Regions from separate parts of the Homo sapiens genome. Here regions 1 and 3 are each linked to region 2. Evidence: fine-mapped QTL for protein levels in blood plasma. Region 2 holds a variant in brackets. A gene starts in each other region. All regions are shown on their reverse strands. Region 1 holds the start of TNFRSF1A (TNF receptor superfamily member 1A). Region 2 has its middle 55 kb from the start of OBP2B. Region 3 holds the start of FCRL1 (Fc receptor like 1).

The links. PIP is the chance, under the fine-mapping model, that this variant and not a neighbour inherited with it causes the effect. Protein levels are from antibody-based Olink assays in UK Biobank. Linkage for the fine-mapping came from a reference panel and not from the study's own genotypes, which makes the PIPs less certain.
Region 1: TNFRSF1A starts here. The variant in region 2 is fine-mapped to the plasma level of the TNFRSF1A protein (UK Biobank, PIP above 0.99).
Region 3: FCRL1 starts here. The variant in region 2 is fine-mapped to the plasma level of the FCRL1 protein (UK Biobank, PIP above 0.99).

What each region holds. Positions count from the first base shown.
Region 1 is chr12:6,338,218-6,342,499 of GRCh38, reverse strand. TNFRSF1A (TNF receptor superfamily member 1A) reads left to right here and starts at 424. Exons shown (of 10, transcript NM_001065.4): 1 at 424-724. The coding sequence starts at 686. RefSeq lists an enhancer at 522-621.
Region 2 is chr9:133,261,685-133,266,036 of GRCh38, reverse strand. It overlaps the pseudogene ABO. Among named protein-coding and RNA genes, the nearest start is that of OBP2B, 55 kb to the right of the region's middle. The variant TAGTGGTGGGCGC/C (reference allele first, on the strand shown) is at 2,663.
Region 3 is chr1:157,818,361-157,822,360 of GRCh38, reverse strand. FCRL1 (Fc receptor like 1) reads left to right here and starts at 2,241. Exons shown (of 11, transcript NM_052938.5): 1 at 2,241-2,354. The coding sequence starts at 2,324.

The sequences.
Region 1 (4,282 bases), not on the chromosome of region 2:
TCTGAACAAATCCTTACAGGAACCCCAGGAGACAGGTTATCTCCACTCTGCAAATTGGAAAACAGATCCAGACAGTTTCAGTTATGTGTCTGAGAAGTTCATTTATGTGTCCAAGACACATTCTTAGCTAAAAAGCTAAGCATTCTGAATTGGAACCCAGAGAATTTGACTCCCAGACTCTGGATCTTTTCACTGCTGTGATCCATCTGGGAAAGGCTAGTGATGTGGGCAAGGGGCTTATTGCCCCTTGGTGTTTGGTTGGGAGTGGTCGGATTGGTGGGTTGGGGGCACAAGGCAGCCAGATCTGGGACTCCTGTGCTTGTGACTGGACTACAAAGAGTTAAAGAACGTTGGGCCTCCTCCTCCCGCCTCCTGTGGCCTCCTCCTCCAGCTCTTCCTGTCCCGCTGTTGCAACACTGCCTCACTCTTCCCCTCCCACCTTCTCTCCCCTCCTCTCTGCTTTAATTTTCTCAGAATTCTCTGGACTGAGGCTCCAGTTCTGGCCTTTGGGGTTCAAGATCACTGGGACCAGGCCGTGATCTCTATGCCCGAGTCTCAACCCTCAACTGTCACCCCAAGGCACTTGGGACGTCCTGGACAGACCGAGTCCCGGGAAGCCCCAGCACTGCCGCTGCCACACTGCCCTGAGCCCAAATGGGGGAGTGAGAGGCCATAGCTGTCTGGCATGGGCCTCTCCACCGTGCCTGACCTGCTGCTGCCACTGGTGAGACCAGGGACAAAGGGAAGAGTGGGCTGGTGGGCGAGGCACCTTCCGGCTGGCGTGGGCCCTCTCCGGGAGGGGGCCGAGCCTCTCCTGCCCGGGCCTGGTCCTGGCGCCAGCCTCAGGCCTGCAGGTCCTAACCTCAGCCACTGCCAGTGTGGGGTTCCCCATTCATCCGCCTTTTGGAGTAGGGGCTGCGCTGAGGCAGGGGAATGGGAGAAGTTTGAAAGGGAGAGAGTAAAAGGAAGCCCTGGCCCCTGACAGCGGTGGAAGTTTGTGGGCGGCCAAGGGAATGTGGGCAGGAGATAGGCCCAGGGTGGGGCAGATTTGGCGGGGAAAAGAAGGGAGTGGGAGTAGGAAGATTAGTGCTCGGGGAGTCCAGACGGTTCTGAATTCTGTCCCTCCGGTCAGCTGGCTGGCCTGGAGGGTGTTGGGCCGTGGGGAGGCGAGGCTGCCTGTGGAACTTGGTGGAGCACACCCTGTAGGGCAGGATTTTGGCGGCTGGTGAAGTGGGGGAGTGAGTTGAGGAGTGGGGATGGGCTGGTGTGGTGGGTTTGGGATGCTCATGGTGGGAGGTATTTGAGAATGGGCTGGGACACTGGATGGGGCAGGGCAACCCAGTGGACAGTGTCCCCAGTGCCCTGGCCAAGCCCCGGCCTCTCACCTGGGGACATTCTTTACCCTTTTGCCTGCTGCTAGGCAGGTAGCCGCTGTGGGACTGAGCCTTCCCAGGGAGCTAGTCCTACCCCCACCTGGTCAGTGTCCCTGGGCCTGTCCTCCAGCTTCCCCTCCCCGCTGCTTCTCACAGACCTAAACAACAATCCCTTGGTTTCTTATTCTACAGTTCAGTTTGGGGAAGTTGGTAGAAAGTTGTTTTCGTCACTGGAAAATGTCCCTTTCTCTGGCCTCAGCCTTGTTTCAATGTATCCTTGATCGTCCTCCACGTCTTGGTCCGGGAATCATCCTGTTCAGATGTCCTGGGCCCATCTAGTCAGGCAGATTTTCCCTGCCCTGCCCGGCCTCTGAAGGCTGCGCCTACCTCCCCTCTCTTTAGTGCCTTATACTCTTCCTCTCCTACCATTCCTTTCTTCCAGCAATCTCCCCAGACTCTCCTCAGACTTCTCAGAGCCTCTTTTTTTGAAATCTTTTCTCGCTAATCCTCCTTCCCCTCCTCTCTGCTCCGCTCTGGTCCCGGCCCCAGGTCCCCAGGCAGCACGTCTCTGGTCAGGGTCTCACTCTTCTTCTTCTGCCTCCTCCTGCCTCCTTAGTCCCACCCGCTCTTCCCTTCTTCCCACTGTCCTTCCCCCACGGTCTCCCCACCAGCCAGCTGCCCTGACATCCTGCTTCTGTTTTCTGTTTGGGGGCGGCCCCTGGCTCCCTCACATACCTCCTGCATGAACAAGAGCAGCTTATATAACCTAACCTTCCATGCCTTCGTTTCTTTATCTCCAAAATGGGTGTCACAGTCTTGACCTCATACTGTTGTTTTGAAGATTGAATAGACTGATACATGTTAAGTGTTCATTTGATTTATTAAGTGTGCGCTCTGGGCTAGACACTGTGATAGGTGCTGGGATTACAGCAGAGAACAAAATCCCTGCCCACAGCTTTGACAGTCCATCAGGGGAATAGGTTGTAGCAAATAGAAAGCACTCAATAAAGTTTTTATATTGCTGTGACTAGTAGTAATTACTGGGTGGCTACCTGTGTTGGGAAAACAGAGGGTAAAGGTAGCCTGAACAGGTAAAGGGAAGTGCCTGCGTCCTGGGGTGCTTCAGCCCAGGTGGGATTATGTCTCCTAAGGGACAGAAGCCTGGCCTGGAGCTGGAGGAAAGGGAAAACAAAGGGAATGCAACATCCTTCTGAATTTCTCACCATTCAGTGGGCAATGCAGAGCTCACAGTGTGTGTGTGTGTGTGTGTGTGTGTGTGTGTGTGAGAGAGAGAGAGAGAGAGAGAGAGAAGTGGGGTAGGGGAGTAGGGAAGAATGATACAGGAGAGACTGTGGCAAAGCAAACAGGATTTTGCTGCTCTCAAAGAGCTTACAGCCTAGTAACCAAGATGGCTTACAGTGAAAAATGATTTCAGAGCAATCCCGAGGAAAATATCCACAAATGCATTGTGATGTGGTGTCCTGGAGCACCAGTTGGGAGGAGGAGGAACTGGGGAAGGAGGTGAGCCTTAGTCCACTGCCTTTCCTTGCTTAGCAGGTCTCAGCTCCTGCGCTCAGCTCCAGAAAATTCAGGAGCTTCCCCACGCTGCTTCAGTGTCCTTCACTGTGCAACTGCAGCACTCCCTGTATAGATCTCAGTGCCTACAACTGACTGTCTTTGACTCAAGTGAGAGCTCTTGAGAGCACGAGCTGTGTATTATCCACCTCAGCATCCCTAGCACCCATACGGGACCTGTCACATTAACTGTGCCCCTTAACTATTTGCTGAAGGAATTAAGGAACAAGAGATGTGTCAGATGGGATGGCGGAGGGAAAGCCTCATAGAAAAGTGGATGTGGAGCTGACATCTGAAGTCACTGCCTGTCAGGGTAGCTATAAAGGAGGGAAGCAGAGTTGGATACTGATGTGAGGAAGAGGAGAGGAATGGAGAGATGGGATTTTGTGTTGATGGGCAGGGTGGCAGGAAGCCAGACACCTTGGTTCGGGAGTGGAAAAACCATGTTGAGAAACACTAAGAAATGTGAATGGGAGAATTAGAGGGAGTGGGGGAGAGGATGGAGGAAGAGTGTTGAATATGGTTCCAGGTGGAGGAATTCATTCATTCGTTTATTCAGAAGCTGTTCTCCTAGGGCACATTCTGTGCCCAGACTGTGATTAGAAGTGAGGTGAGGCATCTCAGATGGGTGCTGTGGTTCATGCCTGTAATTCCAGCACTTCAGGAGGCCGAGGTGTGTGGATTGCTTGAGTCCAGGAGTTCGAGACCAGCCTGGGCAACACAGCAAAACCCTGTCTCTACAAAAAATACAAAGATTAGCGGGGCATGGTGGGGCGTGCTTGTCATCCCAGCTATTCGGGAGACTGAGCTCGGGAGGACGGCTTGGGCCCAGGAGGTGGAGGTTGTAGTGAGCCCTGACCACACCACTACATTCCGTCCTGGTGGTGAAGGTTGCAGTGAGCTATGATTGTGCCACTGCACTTCACCCTGGGTGACAGAGTGAGACCCTGTTTCAAAAAAAAAAAAAAAAAAGTAGTGAGGCATCTGTGGAAGTCTTCAGATCATTTCCATGACCATGGAAATGCTGTTTGGAGCCAGGCCCTGGAGATGGAGAGGAAGGTTCACACACTTGTGCGTGCAAGTTAAAGCCTGAATGAAGATTTAAAAAGTGTGTAGGACGGATGGGAGCAGGAGAGAGGCTAGAAGACACTTGCAATAACCCAGGTGTGAGGCAACCCAGGAATGCGGAGAGGACCGAGAGATCACAGGGGGAGGCCTCGCAAGATGAACTGACACATGGGATGGCGGCAGGGATAGGGATGGGGCCCTGGGGAGAGAGCGTGGCAAGTTCTCAGCATTCGTCCGGGAAGTCGATGGTGTGTCATTTGTCTAGG
Region 2 (4,352 bases):
TTTTTTTGAGATGGAGTCTCGCTCTGTCGCCCGGGCTGGAGTGCAGTGGTGCAATCTCGGCTCACTGCAACCTCCGTCTCCCAGGTTCAGGAGATTCTCCTGCCTCAGCCTCCCAAGTAGCTGGGATTACAGGCATGCGCCACCACACCCAGCTAATTTTTTGTATTTTTAGTAGAGGCAGGATTTCACCGTGTTGGTCAGGCTAGACTCGAATGCCTGACCTCGTGATCCACCCACCTCGGCCTCCCAAAGTGCTGGGGTTACGGGCGTGAGCCACCACGCCTGGCCTTAGTTTTTGTATTTTTAGTAGAGATGAGGTTTCACCATGTTGGCCAGGCTGGTCTTGAACTCCTGATCTCAGGTGATCCACCTGCCTCGGCCTCCCAAAGTGCTGAGATTACAGGCATGAGCCACTGTGCCCGACCTCTCTTTTAGTTATTTTTAAATGTGCAATTAAATTATTATTGACTATAGTCTCCCTGTTATGCTATCAAATACTGGGTCTTATTCATTCTTTCTATTTATTTGTACACATTAACCATCCCTACATACCCTCTCACCCCTGCCACTACCCTTCCAAGTCTCTGCGAACCATCCTTCTATTCTCTATCTCCATGAGTTTAATTGTTTCGATGTTTTGATACTACAGATAAGTGAGAACATGCAGTGTCTGTCTCTCTGTGCCTGGCGAGAAAATATTTGTAATATTTGTATTTGGCAAAGGACTTGTATCCAAAATATAGAAATAAATTCTGCTCAATAATAAAAAGAGAAACAACTTAATGAGACCCAGTGTCTACAAAAAGTAGAATAATTAGCCGGGCATGTTGGTGCATGTCTGTAGTCCCACCTAATCAGGAGGCTGAGGGGGAAAGATCACTTAAGCTCAGGAGTTCGAGGTTGCAGCGAGCTGTGATCGTGCCACTGCACTCCAGCCTGGGTGACAGAGTAAGATCCTGTCTAAAAAAAATAAAAATAGAGGGCCAGGTGAGGTGGCTTATGCCTGTAATCCCAGCACATTGGGAGGCTGAGGCAGGTGGATTGCTTAAGCCCAGGAGTTCAAGACCAGCCTGGGCAACATGGTGAAACCCCATCTCTACCAAAACCACAAAAAATCAGCTAGATGTGGTGCATGCCTATAGTCTCAGCTACTCAAAAGGCTGAGGTGGGAGGATCACCTGAGCCCAGGAAGTCGAGGCTGTAGTGAGCCATGATCATGCCACCACACTCCAGCCTGGGCAACTGGAGTGGGACTGTGCCCCCCAAAAATATATATAAGTAAATAAATAAATAAATAAATAATAAAATGAGCTAAAGATCTGGACAGGCTTCATAAGAAGCAAGCAAATGGCCAATAAATACATGAAAAGATGATTTACCTCCTTAGTCATTGGACACACTTAGATACCACTCCTCATCCACTAGCATGGCTAAAGGATAAAAGAGTGACCATCAAGTGTTGGCAAGGACTGTGGTTCTCGTACATTCCTGGCGGGAATGGAAAATTCAGTCACCACTTTGGAACACAGTTTCTTACAAAGTTAAACATACACTTACCATATGACCCATCTTTTCCATTCCTTGGTATTTACTCAAGGGAAATGAAAACACAGGTCCACAAATACCTGCACATGAGTGTTTACAGAAGCTTTGTTGCTAGTGGCCCCGAACAGTGAAAAAACCACAGTGTCTGTCAATAGGAGACAGAATAAATGAATTGTGGCGGATTAACAATGGCGTGCTTCTCAGAAATGAAAAAGAACGAACGATTGATACACGTGACAATATAGGTGAATCTTCAAAACAGCATGCGGTGTGATGCGGCCAGACATAAAAGAGCATGTATCAGAGGATTCCGTGTATGGGAAACGCCAGGGAATCAGATCCATGGTTGTCAGGGTCAGGAGGGACCTTACTGGGGTGATTACATGTGTACATACATTGTGTGAAACTCATCAAAACCGTATACCTAAAGTGGGCACATTTTATTGGATGTAAGTTATCCCTCAAATTAAATTAATTTTCAAAGTTTTAAAAAATGGAACCATTTTTGCCACATTGAAGGAAAATTATTTCCACCAAGATTTCCCTACAGCCAAACGATCTACCAACTACAAAAATGGAAAAAATAATTTAGGACATGTAAAGTTCAAATGTTTTGCCTCCCACGTTTCTGTTTCAAGAAGCTATTCGAGATAAATCGCTCCGTGGTCACAGGACTTAGAAAGGTGGAGGTAAACACACACAAGCATTATAAGATAAGAAGTAACAGATGAATTAGTTGAAAGGGACTGATTTCGGGGGAAGGAATAGGAACTGGGCCAGGAGATAGACGCCTTTCAGGCTTGCCCTTGTGAAAACGATAGTCCCCTCTTACCTGCGGGGGATAGGTTCCGAGATCCCCAGTGGATGTCTGAAACCACAGATAGTACCAAACCCTACAGAGAGTATGTTTTCTCCTGTACACACATACCTATGATAGGGTTTAATTTATAAATTAGGCACCGGGTGGGATTAACAACCATAATTAATAGTAAAATAGAACAATTATAACAATATACTGTCCGAGGCGGGTGGATCACTTGAAGTCAGGAGATCGAGACCAGCCTGGCCAACATGGTGAAACCTGTCTCTACTAAAAATACAAAAAATTAGCCAGGCG[TAGTGGTGGGCGC/C]CTGTAAACCCAGCTACTCGGGAGGCTGAGGCAGGAGAATTGCTTGAACCCGGGAGGCGGAGGCTGTAGTGAGCCGAAGGTGCCCCTTTGCACTCCAGCCTGGGCAACGAGCAAAACTCCATCTCAAAAACAACAACAAAACAACAACAACAACAAAAACAATATACTGTAATAAAGGTTACGTGAATGTGGTCTCTCTAAAAAAAAATGTGTATATATCTTAGTTTGTGGGTTTTTTGTTGTTGTAGTTTTGTTTATTATTAAGAGACAGGGTCTTGCTCTGTTACCCAGGCTGGAGTGCAGTGGTGTGATCATGGCTTACTGCAGCCTTCACCTCCTAGGCTCAAGTGATCCTTCCACCTCAGCCTCCTGGGACCAGAGGCATGCACCACTATGCCCAGCTAATTGTTTTTTTTTTTTTTTTCTTGATAGAAATGAGTTCTCACTATGTTGCCCAGGCTGGTCTAGAACTCCTGGCTTCCAGCAATTCTGCTGGCTCAGCCTCCCAAAGTCCTGGGATTATAGGCACGAGCCACGATGCCTGTCCTCAAAATATTTTACTGTACTGTACTCACCTATTATTGGCCTTTGGTTGACCATGGGTAACTGAAACTCCAGCAAGCGAAGGTGTGGATAAGGGAACTACTGTACGTGACTTTAATATACATAAAATCACCTTAAAGACAATGATTGTTTCCAGAACATGAGCCTCTGAGACAGCAGGGAGATACTAGGGGAAGTTGGTGGCTCCTCTCCCTGGCAGGAACTGGTCTGGGCTCCTGGCTCAGCCTGGCCATGAGGCTGTCCTGGCCTCCCTCGGTGGGTTCGACAGTGACCTCGACGTGCTCATTTCAGTGTGGTTCATTCCGGTCTCCCAGGGGAAGGGGGTGCTGAGTGGAAGGAGGTCAATGGGAAGCCGGGGTGGCTCTCAGAGTCTGCAGGAGCAGTCGGGCTGATGAGCTGGGAGGAGCAGACCGCCTCCCTCTTCTCTGAGTGGGAGGAGGGCCAGATCTGGACTGGGTTTGGAGATGCTCAGGTGGGGCTCAGAGCATCACCTGTGGGGCAGAGGGACCATCTTGGCAGATGAAGGCCCGTCGCAGGGTGTGATGCCTGAATTACAAGGCGGGACAGGTAAAGTGGGGCAGGTGAGAGAAGGAGGGTGAGTGATGTGATTTTTCTACTCCTGTTTTCCAGGAAAACCAAAATGCCACGCACTTCGACCTATGATCCTTTTCCTAATAATGCTTGTCTTGGTCTTGTTTGGGTAAGACACATTTGACCATCGAGGCTGGCCTGGTTTGGGGAGAAGTGACCACAGCAGCCAATCAGACCCATGGGGCCTCCCTGAGCTCCCCAAGTATCACAGTTATCAGGGTCCTAAGGACAGTTATTGCCTGCGTCCAGCTCTGGCGGAGGGTGTGCTTACTTGCTCCCTTATTTTAGCCTCACCTGGGCAACAGGCTCATCTCACTCCCATTTAAAATTTTCCTAAGTGTGGAGTCTGGGGCTGGGAGAGCAAGCCCCTTGCCCACAATTGCGTGGCTGGGGGTGGGGAAGGCAATTCTGGGTCCCAAGCTGTTAGTCGCTTCCAGACACAGAAGGTCCCAGAACCAAGAGTGAAGTCACCTGTCACCTCTACTGGGGCATCTCTGGACACGGTCTGGAAACACTCCCTGAC
Region 3 (4,000 bases), not on the chromosome of region 2:
TCACGCCATTCTCCTGCCTCAGCCTCCCGCGCAGCTGGGACTACAGGCGCCCGCCACCACGCCCGGCTAATTTTTTGTGTTTTTTAGTAGAGACGGGGTTTCACTGTGTTAGCCAGGATGGTCTCGATCTCCTGACCTCGTGATCCGCCCGCCTTATGTTCAAGTTCTTAAAACAGTCTGGGGATAGGCTCATGGCTTTTCATTTCATCGTAGTATTTCATAATTTATATTCATGTTACTTTTTTGTATGCATGCATGAACTATCACATTATAAAAATAAAAGTGTGAGAGAGCTTAACAAATAAAATGTTATAGCCTTTATATCTGTGGAGGAGGAAACACATTTTAATCTGAACATCTTGTGAAGGCACTGGAGCAGGACACACAGGAAGAGATGTGATGAGAATCAACCTAAGACCCCAACAACAGATGAATCCATAAAGAAAATGTGGTGTATATATACAACGGAATACCATTCAGCCATACAAAATGAAATCCTGTCATTTGTGACAACATGATGAAGCTGGAGGACATCATGTTAAGTGAACCAAGCCAGACACAGAAAGACAAATACCACATGAACTTACTTATATGTGGAATCTGAAAAAAATAAGAAGTTGATATTATGGAAGTATAGCATAGAATAGCATCTATCAGAGACTGAGGAGGGAATGAGGAGGGAAGAGAGGGAAAGATTGGTCAACAGGTACAAGGTGCCAATTCGATAGGAGGAATAAGGTTTGGTGTTTTATTGCACAGTAGGGTAACTATGGTTACTAGTAAGGTATTATATATTACAAAATAGCTAGGAAAGAGGCTTTTGAATGTTCTCACCACATAGAAATGAAAACTGCACGAGACAATGGATATGCCAACCACCCTGATTTGATCATCACTGTACAACATATATATGTATTATATTGCAATGTCAAACTGTGCCCCATAAATATGTACAATTACAATGTGTCAATTAAAACATTAAAAAAACCAACAGATTAAAAGAAAAAGAGAGAGATGAAACAGCAGAGTGTATGCAAAAACAGCTTTACACCCTGGATTTAAAGGGCTCTACATTCTCATTCAGGAGATTTTTTTGCATTGGTCCTGAAACTTTACACTAAACAAGCTTATCCCCACACAGGCTTTCCTAAGCCAATAAATAAAGCTATGGAATACCTATTCGTTTTCAGCACTTTCGCTGTTAGCCTGGTTACCAACATTGCTCCCTTTTCCCTCTGGTTTTGCGTATCACTGAATAGTTTCTTTTCTCAGTCATACTCATTGAGCTGGATACCTGGACTTAGACATCATTGCCTGACAGCATCTTTCCCCTAATAGGTTACTTTCCACACATTCTAGTTATTCTTAATCCTAGACACTCACGGATTTAAGAAATGTTGAAAATTAAGATAGCTTATTCTCCTCCAATCCCTAATCTAGGCTTCACTTGCCTAGAACTGGTATCCCTAATGTGCTAAAGGTAGCAATGGGAGAGATTATAGGTGCCCTGATTTTGAGGGAAAAGAGGGGCAATTTTACAAATGCCAGAGTTAGTACTAATGGTGAACCCTTCTCAAGTGCCCTGAAGCTAATTTGCATATACTTCTTTTCTGTATTTCATTTTCAAATATCCCCCAGATTGTAATTTGCCGTGATTTTATTTTTCAGTGATTTCATGCTCATTTACTGGTACACTGAAAGTTTGAATATCAAAGCGTATATCTGTATGAATAGGTTGACCCTGTACATAAGTCATCATATGCAGCAAGGGTCAGACACTACACATAACCGGGGTGACAGCCCCATCAGTCCCTGATTTAATGACATGTTTGCATAATATGACTATACTAGAGAAAGTTTGCATAGTGGGACTATATTGCTGAGCAAGAAGAATGTGCCAATTAGAAACAATCCAGGAGACATCCCTATCAAAGGTGAAAAGTATTGTAGATGTATCAAAGATGAATTTCAGCAGGACCATAACCTGATGAGACTCATCAAAGTAGGAAACTGCCTTTAGAAAACTTCCTTTGAAATACCTGAATTCTTGAAAAAGTCCCTCAAATATTGATGTGTACTATCTGCAGCTTGTGGAACTGAATCAAACTATATTTAAAAAGGAGCATCTTTAATTTTCTCAGACTTCATAGAAAAGGAAATGGAGACTGGTCACTAGAGGGTTCTTCTTCCTTCTACTTCTGCTGAAGGGTAACTTCCGATATCAACTTCCTCAAACCTCTGATGAGCTGCTGCTGCTCGACTCTGAGGTGCATTCTTTTTTTGATGAGAGGCATCTCTAGGTACCATCCCTGACCTGGTCCTCATGCTGCCGAGGCTGTTGCTGTTGATCTGTGGTGAGTTGGGCAACTCAGAGCAGGGCATGGGATGCAATCATGCTTGGGCTCTGCTTCCTGAAGGGCTGTAAGGACTTCTTAGGACTAAGGTTCTGTCAGGTAATGCTCAGGGGTGCTCAGATCTCCACTTCCACGGAGGGCTCAGAGTCAGGCAAAAAGTTGTAGATATTTCAAAAAGCCAGAGTTTTCAAGAAAACTATCATTTCAGTTTTTATCTCATAGGAAGTGTTCACTGTCTGTCTTCCTTTCCATCAATAATTGTCTTTGTTCTCAGTGTTTTCAACAGCTGCCAAAAGAAAAATCTGTATAATAAATAGGCCTCTGAATTCCTTGCCCTTCTTACTACCAACGTTATTTCCTTTTATCCCTCTCTGACTCCCCATTCCCACAGTCAAACCTTAGAACTTATCATCACTCCTTTGTTTTCAGCATACATCCCCCACCCCCACTAAGTTGTGTTTCTAGCTCACTTTCTCCTGCACTCTATTTCCAACATGACTTCAATTACCCCAGGGCTACTTTTCCATTATCAGTAACTACACTTCATGTGCTCACTTCTCATGGTGCTCAGCTCAGATTCTGCAGCTCACCACCACAACACTCCCTCGAGCACACCTTCATCTCTCTTCCCCCATAGCACTCTCCTGGTTTACACGCCCTTCTGCATGCTTCACTCCTGGACATAAACAGCTGAATGGGATTTTTTTTTAAATGCACAACCCTGATGACTTATCCCCTTTTAAGTGTAGGACCCCCAAATCTCAGGTAGCCAACAGCAATGCCAGGCAATTATCCTACATGTTCACAGTCCATGTTGCTCCATTATCACTATTGCATACCTTATCCTGTCACCTCATACTTCTCTGTTCACTCTCATTGTGTAATCTTGCTTCATATTTCATTGAGAAAATAAAAGCAGTCAGAAGAAAACTCTCTCATCTTTCTGTTGCTGTTGACCTACTCACCTCTGCATTCACATACACTGCCTTCTCTTCCCCTACCACGAATATATTGCCCCTCATCTTGTTGATGACAAGACTCTCCACTTGTGCATTAGGCCCATGACCCTCTTACTTTCTCAAAAAGTTTGCTCCATCATCAATATGTTTCTTCATTCTAAATTATTCCCATAAGTATACAAACATGCTACAGTATCTTTTATTAAAAACAGCTTTATTGAAATATTATTCACATATAATACAATTCACCATTTAAGTTATGCAATCCAATGGTTTTTTATGACAATCACTGAGTGGTGCAACTATCACCACAATCAATTTCAGAATGTTTTCATCACCCAAGAAAGAACGCCATACCCACTAGCAGGCATCCCCAATTTTTTTTCCAACGCCTCACCTATCCTCACCCCTCTATTTTCTGGCCACATGCAATCATTATCTACTTTCTGTCTCTCTATATTTGTCTATTCTGGACACACACCCCATATCTAACTGTAATTATATATCCCTTGAGCAACATTTCCCTCATTCCTCCTTCCCCACTATTACCCAAGCTTCTTGTAACCATGATTCTGCACCGTCCTTCTATGAGATCAACGTTTTCAGATTCCACATGAGTGAGATAATGCAGTACTTGTCATCCTGTGCCTACCTCATTTCATTTAACATAATATCCTTCAGGCTCAC